2 separate regions of the Homo sapiens genome follow, and region 1 is linked to region 2. The links come from fine-mapping of genetic effects on gene expression. A gene starts in region 2. The other region holds a variant in brackets. All regions are shown on one strand. Distances are from middle to middle.

What was found. PIP is the estimated chance that this variant, and not a neighbour inherited with it, causes the effect.
Region 1: its variant is the best candidate, but not a certain one, in a credible set for the expression of RINL in whole blood (TOPMed, PIP 0.55).

Annotation. Positions count from the first base shown.
Region 1 is chr19:38,793,717-38,799,087 of GRCh38, forward strand. It overlaps the pseudogene RNU6-140P. Among named protein-coding and RNA genes, the nearest start is that of LGALS7B, 7.2 kb to the left of the region's middle. RefSeq lists an enhancer at 3,367-4,281. The variant A/G (reference allele first, on the strand shown) is at 2,818.
Region 2 is chr19:38,875,154-38,880,524 of GRCh38, forward strand. It overlaps RINL (Ras and Rab interactor like), which reads right to left and starts at 3,122. Exons shown (of 12, transcript NM_001195833.2): 1 at 3,079-3,122; 2 at 1,540-1,628; 3 at 1,178-1,337. The coding sequence starts at 1,589. It overlaps SIRT2 (sirtuin 2), which reads right to left. Exons shown (of 16, transcript NM_012237.4): 14 at 4,479-4,549; 15 at 4,281-4,347; 16 at 3,407-4,157. The coding sequence ends at 4,002. RefSeq lists a silencer at 2,909-2,958 and enhancers at 3,499-3,618, 3,659-3,758.

The DNA of each region.
Region 1 (5,371 bases), 81 kb before region 2:
ATTTTTAAATAAAAAATTTTTTTTGTTGAGGCAGGGTCTTGCTCTGTTGCCCAGGCTGAGTGGAGTTGTGGATAAGGGCTTACTGCAGCCTCAACCTCCCAGGCTGAAGCCATCCTCCCACCTCAGCCCCCCAAGTAGCTGAGACTACAGGCACGTGCCATGGTGCCAGGCTAATTTTTTTGGGGGGGGCGGGTGTTTGTAGAGCCAGGGTCTTGCTATGTTGCCCAGGCTGGTCTTGAACTCCTGGACTCAAACTCCTGAGCTCAAGCGATCCTCCCACCGAGGCTTCCCAGAGTGCTGGGATTACAGGTGTGAGCCATGGTGCCCAACCTAAATCCTTCTTTATTAAGTTTGTCTTCAAAGAAATTTAGAATTTATGATTCAGCTTCCCTTCTCTCCTCCCCATCCTCCTGGATCTTTCTGTAACAGCTCTATTGACATATAACTCATATGCTATACAAGTCACCCATTCAAAGTATACAAGTCAATGTTTTTCAGTATATTCACAAGGTTGTGCATCCATCAACACAATCTAATTTTAGAACATTTTTATCATCTCAAAAGACCTTGGCTCACAGATGTAATCCCAGCACTTTGGGAGCCTGAAGCGGAAGGATTGATTGAGCCCAGGAGTTCAAGACCAGCCTGAGGCCGGGCGCTGTGGCTCACACTTGTAATCTCAGCACTTTGGGAGGCTGAGATGGGCGGATCACTTGAGCTCAGGAGCTCGAGACTAGCCTGGCCAACATGGCAAAACCACATCTCTACTCAAAATACAAAAAATTAGCCAGGCGTGGTGGCACGCACCTGTAATCCCAGCTACGTGGGAGGCTGAGGCAGGAGAATTGCTTGAACCCGGTAGGCGGAGGCTGCAGTGAGCAGATAGCACCATTGCACTCCAGCCTGGGTGACAGAGCAAAGCTCTGTGTCAAAAAAAAAAAAAAAAAAAAAAAAAAACAACCTGGGAAATATAGGGAGACCTCATCTCTACAAAAAATAATTTTAGCTGGGCATGGTGGTACACACCTGTGGTCCCAGTTACTCGGGAGGCTGAGCTAGGAGGATGGCTTGAGCTGGAGAGGTCGAGGCTGCAGAGAGCCGTGATCGCTCCACTGCACTCCAGCTTGAGCAACAGAGTGAAACCCTGTTTCAGAAACAAAACAAAACAAAAAAGAACAACTAAAAGAAACCCCATACCCATAAGCAGTCACTCCCCAACTTGCCCCTCCCCCAGCACCTGGCAATCACTAACCTACTTTCCAGCTGTATGGATTTATGAATCTGCTTGTTTTCCACACGTGGAATCATACAATATGTGGCCCTGTATATCTGGCTTCTTCCACGGAGCATCATGTTTTCAGGGTTTGTCCATGTCATAGCATGCATCAGCACTTCATTCCTTTTCATGGCTGAATGCTGTTCCAATGTGTGGATCGAATATACGCGTTTACCCATTCATCATGGTGAATAATGGATATCTGGGTTGTTCCTACATCTTGGCTATTATGAATAATGCTGCTATGAACCTATTGTGTGAACATGTTTTCATGTCTCTTGGGTAAGTACCTAGGAGAATTTCTGGGTCAGGCCAGGTGCTGTGGCTCATGCCTGTAATTCCACCACTTTGGGAGGCCAAGGCAGATGGATCACCTGAGGTCAGGAGTTCGAGACCAGCCTGATCAACATGGAAAAGCCCCATCTCTACTAAAAATACAAAATTAACCGGGCGTGGTGGTGCATGCCTGTAATCCCAGCTACTTGGGAGACTGAGGCAGGAGAATCGCTTGAACCCAGGAGGTGGAGGTTTCAGCGAGCCGAGATCGCACCACTGCACTCCAGTCTGGGCATCAAGAGCGAAACTCCGTCTCAAAAAAGAAAAAAAAAAAAAGAATTCCTGGGTCACATGACTCTTTTAAGTTCCGTTTCAAAGAACTGCCAAACCATTTTCCAAAGTAACTGTAACATTTTACATTACCATCAGCAACATATGTGTTCCTATTTCTCCATGTTCTCTCCAACACTTGTTATTGTCTTTTTTTTTTTTTTGAGACAGGGTCTTGTTCTGTTGTGTAGGCTGGAGTGCAGTGGTGAAATCATGGCTCACTGCAGCCTCCACCTCCTGGGCTCAAGCAATTCTCCTACCTCAGGCCTCCCAATTAGTTGGAACTATAGGTGTGCGTCCCCATGCTTGGCTAATTTTTAAAAATTTTTTGTAGAGACAGGTTCTTGCTATGTTGCCCAGGCTGGTCCTGAACTCTTAGCCTCAAGTGATCCTCCCACCCCGGCCTCCCAAAGTGCTGGGATTACAGGCATGAGCCACCACACCTGACCTATCTGTCTTTTTTATTATAGCCATCCTAATAGGTTGGCTTCACCACTTGGTGAAGAGATATGTCATGTGGTTTTGATTTGCATTTCCCTAATGACATGGGTTGCCGTTTATATATCTTCTTTGCAGAAATGTTTATCGAAATTTTCTGCCCATTTTAAATTGGATTTTTAAAAGGTGTTATATAATCTTATCCATAAATATGTGTATAATTCTAAATGATATTTATTTTTTAATTTTTATTTTTGAGATGGGGTCTCACTATGCTGCCCAGGCTGGTCTCAAACTCCCAGGTTCAAACAGTCTTCCCACCTTAGCCTCCCAAGTAGCTAGGATTACAGGCATCTGCCACCACGCCTGGCAGGCTCTCTTTTTAAACAAAACCTCATTACCATTCTAACTCCTAAAAAATTTACAGTTCATATCATTGTATGATACAATGTTTGCAAAGTTTGTATGCAAAGGTTTCCCCCAACATTTTATTATGA[A/G]TTTTTTCAGACATGCAGAAAAGTTAAAAGAATTATTCTATGAATACCTCATATACCCTAACCAGATTCTATATAACATTTTACTCAACTTGCTTTATCACACATAGATCCATCTATCCACCCTTCTATCCATCCATCACCATCTTCTTTTTTTCTTTTCTTCTTCTTCTTTTTTTTTTTTTTTTTGAGAGGAGTCTCACTCTGTTGCCAGGCTGGAGTGCAGTGGCGCGATCTCGGCTCACTGCAACCTCTGCCTCCCAGGTTCAAGCGATTCTCCTGCCCCAGCCTCCCGAGTAGCTGGGATTACAGGCACCCACCACTATGCCCGGCTAATTTTTTGTATTTTTGGTAGAGACAGAGTTTCACCACGTTGGCCAGGCTAGTCTCAAAAATTCCTGACCTTGTGATTCGCCTGCCTCGGCCTCCCAAAGTGTTGGGATTACATGCGTGAGCCACCACACCTGGCCAAAAAATATGGAACACTTCACAAATTTGCATGTCATCCTTGCGCAGGGGCCATGCTAATCTTCTCTGCATCATTCCAGATTTTAGTATATGTGCTGCTGAAGCGAGCACTATTTCTTTATTTTATTTTAATATTTTGTATTTTTGTATTTTTGTATTTTTTTTTTATTGATCATTCTTGGGTGTTTCTCGCAGAGGGGGGATTTGGCAGGGTCACAGGACAATAGTGGAGGGAAGGTCAGCAGATAAACAAGTGAACAAAGGTCTCTGGTTTTCCTAGGCAGAGTGTGTGTGTCCCTGGGTACTTGAGATTAGGGAATGGTGATGACTCTTAACGAGCATGCTGCCTTCAAGCATCTGTTTAACAAAGCACATCTTGCACCGCCCTTAATCCATTTAACCCTGAGTGGACACAGCACATGTTTCAGAGAGCACAGGGTTGGGGGTAAGGTCATAGATCAACAGGATCCCAAGGCAGAAGAATTTTTCTTAGTACAGAACAAAATGAAAAGTCTCCCATGTCTACTTCTTTCTACACAGACACAGCAACCATCCGATTTCTCAATCTTTTCCCCACCTTTCCCCCTTTTCTATTCCGCAAAACTGCCATTGTCATCATGGCCCGTTCTCAATGAGCTGTTGGGTACACCTCCCAGACGGGGTGGTGGCCGGGCAGAGGGGCTCCTCACTTCCCAGTAGGGGCGGCCGGGCAGAGGCGCCCCTCACCTCCCGGACCGGGCGGCTGGCCGGGCAGGGGGCTGACCCCCCACCTCCCTCCCGGACGGGGCGTCTCGCCTGGCGGGGGGCTGACCCCCCCACCTCCCTCCCGGACGGGGCGGCTGGCTGGGCAGGGGGCTGACTCCCCCACCTCCCTCCCGGACGGGGCGGCTGGCCGGGCAGAGGGGCTCCTCACTTCCCAGTAGGGGCGGCCGGGCAGAGGCGCCCCTCACCTCCCAGACGGGGTGGCTGGCCGGGGCGGCTGGCCGGGCGGGGGGCTGACCCCCCCACCTCCCTTCCGGACGGGGTGGCTGCCGGGCGGAGACGCTCCTCACTTCCCAGACAGGGTGGCAGCCGGGCGGAGGGGCTCCTCACTTCTCAGATGGGGCGGTTGCCAGGCGGAGGGTCTCCTCCCTTCTCAGACGGGGCGGCCGGGCAGAGACGCTCCTCACCTCCCAGACGGGGCGGCGGGGCAGAGGCGCTCCCCACATCTCAGACGATGGGCGGCCGGGCAGAGACGCTCCTCACTTCCTAGATGGGATGGTGGCCGGGAAGAGGTGCTCCTCACTTCCTAGGTGAGATGGCGGCCGGGCAGAGACGCTCCTCACTTTCCAGACTGGGCAGCCAGGCAGAGGGACTCCTCACGTCCCAGATGATGGGCGGCCAGGCAGAGACGCACCTCACTTCCCAGACGGGGTAGCGGCCGGGCAGAGGCTGCACTCTTGGCACTTTGGGAGGCCAAGGCAGGCGGCTGGGAGGTGGAGGTTGTAGCTGAGATCACGCCACTGCACTCCAGCCTGGGCACCATTGAGCACTGAGTTAACGAGACTCCGTCTGCAATCCCGGCACCTCGGGAGGCCGAGGCTGGCGGATCACTCGCGGTTAGGAGCTGGAGACCAGCCCGGCCAACACAGCGAAACCCCGTCTCCACCAAAAAAATACGAAAACCAGTCAGGCGTGGCGGCGCGCGCCTGCAATCGCAGGCACTCGGCAGGCTGAGGCAGGAGAATCAGGCAGGGAGGTTGCAGTGAGCCGAGATGGCAGCAGCACAGTCCAGAGGGAGACCGTGGAAAGAGGAGAGGGAGAGGGGGAGGGGGAGGGGGAGGGAGCTATTTTGTATTTTTTTAGAAACAGAGTTTTGCTCTGTTGTCCAGACTAGAGTGCAGTGGCCTGATTATGGTTCACGGCAGCGTTGAACTCCTGGGCACAAGCCAACCTCCTGCCTCAGCCTCCCTAGCAGCTGGAACTACAGATGTTTGCTACATCTGGCTTACTTTTTTATTTTTTGTAGAGACAGGGTCTCGCCATGTTGCCCAGGCTGGTCTTGAACTCCTGGGCTCAAGCAATCTTCCCACCTCGTCTCCCAAAGTGC
Region 2 (5,371 bases):
AATAAATAAAAAAATTAAAAATATTGCTACCTGGGCCCCATCCTTTTTTTTTTCTTTTTTCTTTTTTTTTTTTTTTTAATAGAGACTGGGCCTTGCTCTGTTGCCCAGGCTGGTCTTGAACTCCTAGGCTTAAGCGAGCCTCCTACCTCAGCCTCCCAAAATGCTGGGATTACAGGCGTGAGTCAGCACACCCGGCCAGCCATCTATATTTTCTGAATCAGTTGTGAAAACCTTTATTTTGGCCGGGGACGGTGGTTCACACCTGTAATCCCAGCACTTTGGGAGGCAGAGGTGGGTGGATCACCTGACGTCAGGAGTTTGAGACCAGCTTGGCCAACATGGTGAAATCCCATCTCTACTAAAAATACAAAAAATTAGCCGGGCGTTGTGGCAGATGCCTGTAATCCCAGCTACTCAGGAGGCTGAGGCAGGAGAATCGCTTGAACCTGGGAGGCGGAAGTTGCAGTGTGCCGAGATCATGCCATTGCACTCCAGCCTGGGCAACAAGAGTGAAACTCTCAAAATTAAAAAAAAAAAGAAAAGAAAACCTTTATTTTTCCTGTAAAATAAACAGATGCAAGTGGTGCCTCTGTTCTTCCTGCCTGGAATGCACGCAGGTGCTTGGGCCTGGGGCAGCCCCCGGGAAGCTGTGAGAGAAGTCCAAGAGAATTATAGCTATGCTGGCCTCAATGTCACTGCACTGCTGATCTAAAGCCAGCAGCTGCCTTTTTGGTTATGTTAGGAAGATAAATGCCTATTTGTTTAAACCGCTGTAGGACAGGTGTTTGTTATATTCAGTCCCAAATATCCAAAATTCCCCGCAGTTGAAAGCAAAGCCAAGAAATGGGATGAAGAGGAATTTATAAGTGTTCTGAAGTTCAGGATCCAGAGCTTCTTGAAATTACATTTTTTTTTTTTTTTTTTTAGACAGGGTCTTGCTCCATCACCCAGGCTCAAGTGAAGTGGCATGATCTCAGCTCACTGCCGCCTTGACCTCCTGAGCTCAAATGATCCTCCCACCTCAGCCTCATGAGTAGCTAGGACTGCAGGCATGAGCCATTGCACCCAGCAATAAATAGCCTTTTTGGTTTGCCCAATTTGTGTCATGTTTGTCACTAGTAACCAGCAGAGTCCTAATCTAGGGTGTCAGGATGGGCCCCCAGCTGTGAGTACTCACCCCTAGTGGCCACAGCCCCACAAGGGCCTCCGCATCCTGGGTATCCAGCTCTGGCACATGCCACACCCCCCATGTCCTCTGCAGGCGAGTAAGTGGCTCTAGGGTGCTGAGGACCCCTAGAGGGGTCCTGTCTGCTTTGTTCACCTGTGGTGGGACCAGCCTGGGATGGACAGTGTCCAGGGAGTCAGGGGTCAGAGGTGGGCAGTGGGACAATGAGGTGAGGTCAAAGGTACAGGAAGGGGCAGGCCCAGGGCAGAGGCTCAGAGATGTGATTCAGGATTCTGTAGTGAGGGAGGTATTGGATGGAAAGGGTTTCTGGATGCAGGGGAAGGAGGGCATAGCCTCAGCCCTAGTAGCCTCACCTCACCCCCTCTGTGGGGACTTCAGGTGCCTTGTCTTCTGGCTGGGCCATCGTCAGGTTGCAGGAAGCCAGTGAGTCATGACCTGGCCTCTGGCAGGGAGAAAGGTAAGACTCAAAGCTGCTCTAGCCCTCGGGTCATGTTCAAGATATTTACAATCAATATGGCAGAGACCCTGACCAATCAGAATGGACCCCAGAGGCCGCTTGCCGTGGCAGGGGTTAATTCTTTATTTTATTTTTGAGACGGAGTCTCACTGTATTGCCCAGACTGCAGTGCAGTGGCACGATCTCAGCTCACTGCAACCTCCGCCTCGTAGGTTCAAGCGATTCTTGTGCCTCAGTCTCCCGAGTAGTTGGGATTACAGGCGTGCACCACCACGCCTGGGTAATTTTTGTATTTTTTAGTAGAGACAAGGTTTTGACGTGTTACCCAGGCTGGTCTCAAACTCCTGACCTCAAGTGATCCCCCCGCCTCGGCCTCCCAAAGTGCTGAGATTACAGGCATGAGCCACCACACCCGGCCGGCAGGGGTTAAATCTTTAGTACCGGATGGTGGGGAATCTGGGGATCCCAGGAGAGAGGCCAGTGTGTCTTGCGGTGTGGGGAGAGGACTCAAAACAATAGCTCTTTACTGAAGTGGTAGGAAATATGTTAAGATTTTTAACAGCCATGGGGGCTGTGTAAATGTGGGCCAGCCCTTGGCAAAACCCAGTCAGCGCCTGGAAAAGTTCTTGGCCCAGAGTAGGCAGTCCCTATATCTGGAAAGGTAATAACATCCCCTCTTCCTCCCTTCCCACACCATGGAGGGGCCACTGAATCTCTTCCCCCAGCATTTTATTATGAAAAATTTCAGACATAGAGAAAAGCTGAAAGAATTGTACAGGAAACATCCCTATGCCCACTACCAAGATTCTACCATGAACATTTTACTCATCTTGCTTTATCACACATCTGTTCCTCTCTCTCTTCATCCACCCATCAGGCCCCAGCTCCTAACCAGGTACAGAGTCCTACGTAGGTTATCACTTAGGGTGGCACTTATCCCAGCAGCAGTCCCAGGAGCAGGAGACCTGGATCGGGGGAGGATCCATCCTCCCTCCCTCCCTCCCTCCCTTCCTTCCTTCCTTCCATCCATCCAGTATTTACTGAATACAGGCTGGAATTAGGTGCCTCTGCCCTGGAGAGAGGGTGATGAACAGGACAGGCTCCTCCCCTCAGGGCCTTCCATTCTTGTTTGGGGCAGGTGTAGCATATGGATAATAGGCAGCTAAACAAATACATTAGGCCATTGACCAGAAGGCCAGGGTGTTATTAGGAAGGAGGGAGGTGGGCAGGGAGGCGCAGGTGCCCTGCCCAGGCAAGAGCAGGAAGGAAGGGAGGGGAGGGGAGGGGAGAGGGAAGCAGATGCCTGCTTGTGTACCGTGGCAGGAGAGGAGGCTGTGGGCAGTGCGTGGCAGGGGTGGGTCAGGGCAGCTGCCTCATACCAAAGGGAGGCAGCAGGGGCTGAAGATGCCAGATGCTCGGTTCCTGGGGGCCCTACCTGTTCTCGGAGGAGAGGCCTGCAGTAGCAGGAAGTGGAGAGAGGAAGCTGAGCAGGCAGGGGGAAGAGGCGGGGCTGGGGTATCTGAAGTCAACTTTCCTCCCTCTTTCTGGGGCCTCAGGCCTTTAGTGACGGGGCTTAGAGGAAGGGACACTGGCAGGCTGGGAGTCCAGGGGTCAGAGCCACGAGGGCCCCCGTGAGGACCCTCTTGTTACCCCTCACTCTGGATCCCGGAGACTTTCTGGTTCCTTAGTGGCCCAAGATCTAACCCCCTCCCTTCAGAGATTTCCCTGGGTGCCCACAGAAAGAAACAGGAGGCCAGACCGGATTGTTAGTTGTTTTTGTTTTTAATTTGTCTCCAATAAGCAATGTCTTCTGCCCATCCAGCATGGGAAGTGGGTCCCACGTGAAGGGGGCCCACCACCCACTTTGGGAGCTGAAGGCAGAGACTCGGGAGCCCTCCCGGCTCAGACTCCCCCTACGCTGGGTGTGGGTTATATTCAGAGGCCCACACCCACACTGGGGTAGGTTAGGTATGGTTTACTTAGCCACAGGCCCCCGGGGGCAGGAGACAGAGTGGGGGCCCGAAGCTCCCTGTCCTGGAAGAGTTAAAAGTTCTGGGGTAGCCCTGGCCCCGTGGGGGCAGTTAGAGATGAGGGAGGTTACTCCTTAGCCCAGGAGTGGTTAGAGACAGTGGGGCTGGTAGAGATGCCTGTTTAAGCCTTGGCCTCTAGGAGGTGTTAGAGATTTGCTGGGGTTGGGGGCCAGGGTTGCTGGGACCCCAGTTTTGGGGAGGGAGCTGTAAGAGATTGGGGGATGTTCTGAGCTCCCCAGACAAGAACTGCTGGTTAAGAGGGGGCCAGGCCCGGTTGGGGCTCAGCTGTCCCTGAGGAGCTCGGCATCCCGCCTGGGAGATGCAGCTGTCACTGGGGTTTCTCCCTCTCTGTTGTCCTGGCCTCGTCCTTGGCAGGTGGCGGGGACTTCTTGGGGGAAGCTGAAGTGCTGGGGTTGGGGACCCCCGCCCCCGACTGGGCATCTATGCTGGCGTGCTCCCTCCGGACAAGGTCCTCCAGCTCCTTCTGCAGGAGCAAAGGTCACAGAAGTCAAAGGTCACTGTGCATCATGGGGTCAGAGGACCCATGGGGTGGGGAGAGGGTCCAGGGATGGGGCTCAGGACAGGCTGGGGTTGCTCAGCTCCTCACCTTCCATCCAAGGAGCTCAGCAAGGGCCAGGCAGCCCTGGTCGCATTCACCCAGCCAGGCCACGTCCCTGCGGTGCAGCAGGAGATCAGAGTTCCCAGGCGGGCTCGCCCCTGCCTGCTCCTCTCATCTGCCTTCGTGCCCCCGCTCCCACCTCACCCTGTCCCTTCCAGGCTGCCCCAACCCCCGGCGGGGCCTCACCTGTAGGCCTTCTTGGAGTCAAAGTCCATGCCTCCTCCGAGGCCCATAATCATCCCCAGGAAAGGGTCCGACTGTCAGGGAGGGGGTGGGTCAGGGGCAGGAGCAGGGAAGGGAGAGCTAAGAGCACAGACCCTGGAGCCAGGTGGCCTGGGTTTGTATCCTAGCTCTGTGACTTTGTTTTTTTTTTGTTGTTGTTTTTTTGGTTTTTTTTGAGACAAAGTTTCACTCTTGTTGCCCAGGCTGGAGTGCAATGATGTGATCTCGGCTCACTGCAACCTCCACCTCCTGGGTTCAAGTGATTCTCCCGCCTCAACCTCCCGAGTAGCCTGGATGACAGGTGCCCAGCACCATGCCCGGCTAATTTTGTATTATTAGTAGAGACGGGGTTTCACCATGTTGGTCAGGCTGGTCTCGAACTCCTGACCTCAGGTGATCCACCCGCCTCGGCCTCCCAAAGTGCTGGAATTACAGGCGTGAGCCATTGCGCCCAGCCAGCTCAGTGACTTTGGTCAAGTGACTTGTCCTCTCTGTGTCTTAGTTTCCTGTAGAATAGGGGTGATCACAAAACCGCGATGGGGTTGTGGCGCCAGTGAGTTCACGCAGGCTAAGACTTGGGACAGTGTCTGCCCACAGCGTGCGCTGCTTGCCCGGTGACCCTGCCTACTTCCCCTGAGGGGAACACCTAGGAGGGAGCACCTGCCCTAGAGTGAGGCTGCCCAGGAAAAACAGACCTGAGAGACCCAGAGCGTGGACCCAACCCCGCCCCCCGCACTGTCTCTCCTGACCCCTGCACCCCCTCCCACCTCCTCAGTCCCTGGAAGCCCGGCCTTCCTATCTGGCTTCAGCTGGTTTGAGTTGGAATTCTATCACTTGCTCAAAAGGGCAGTGAATGT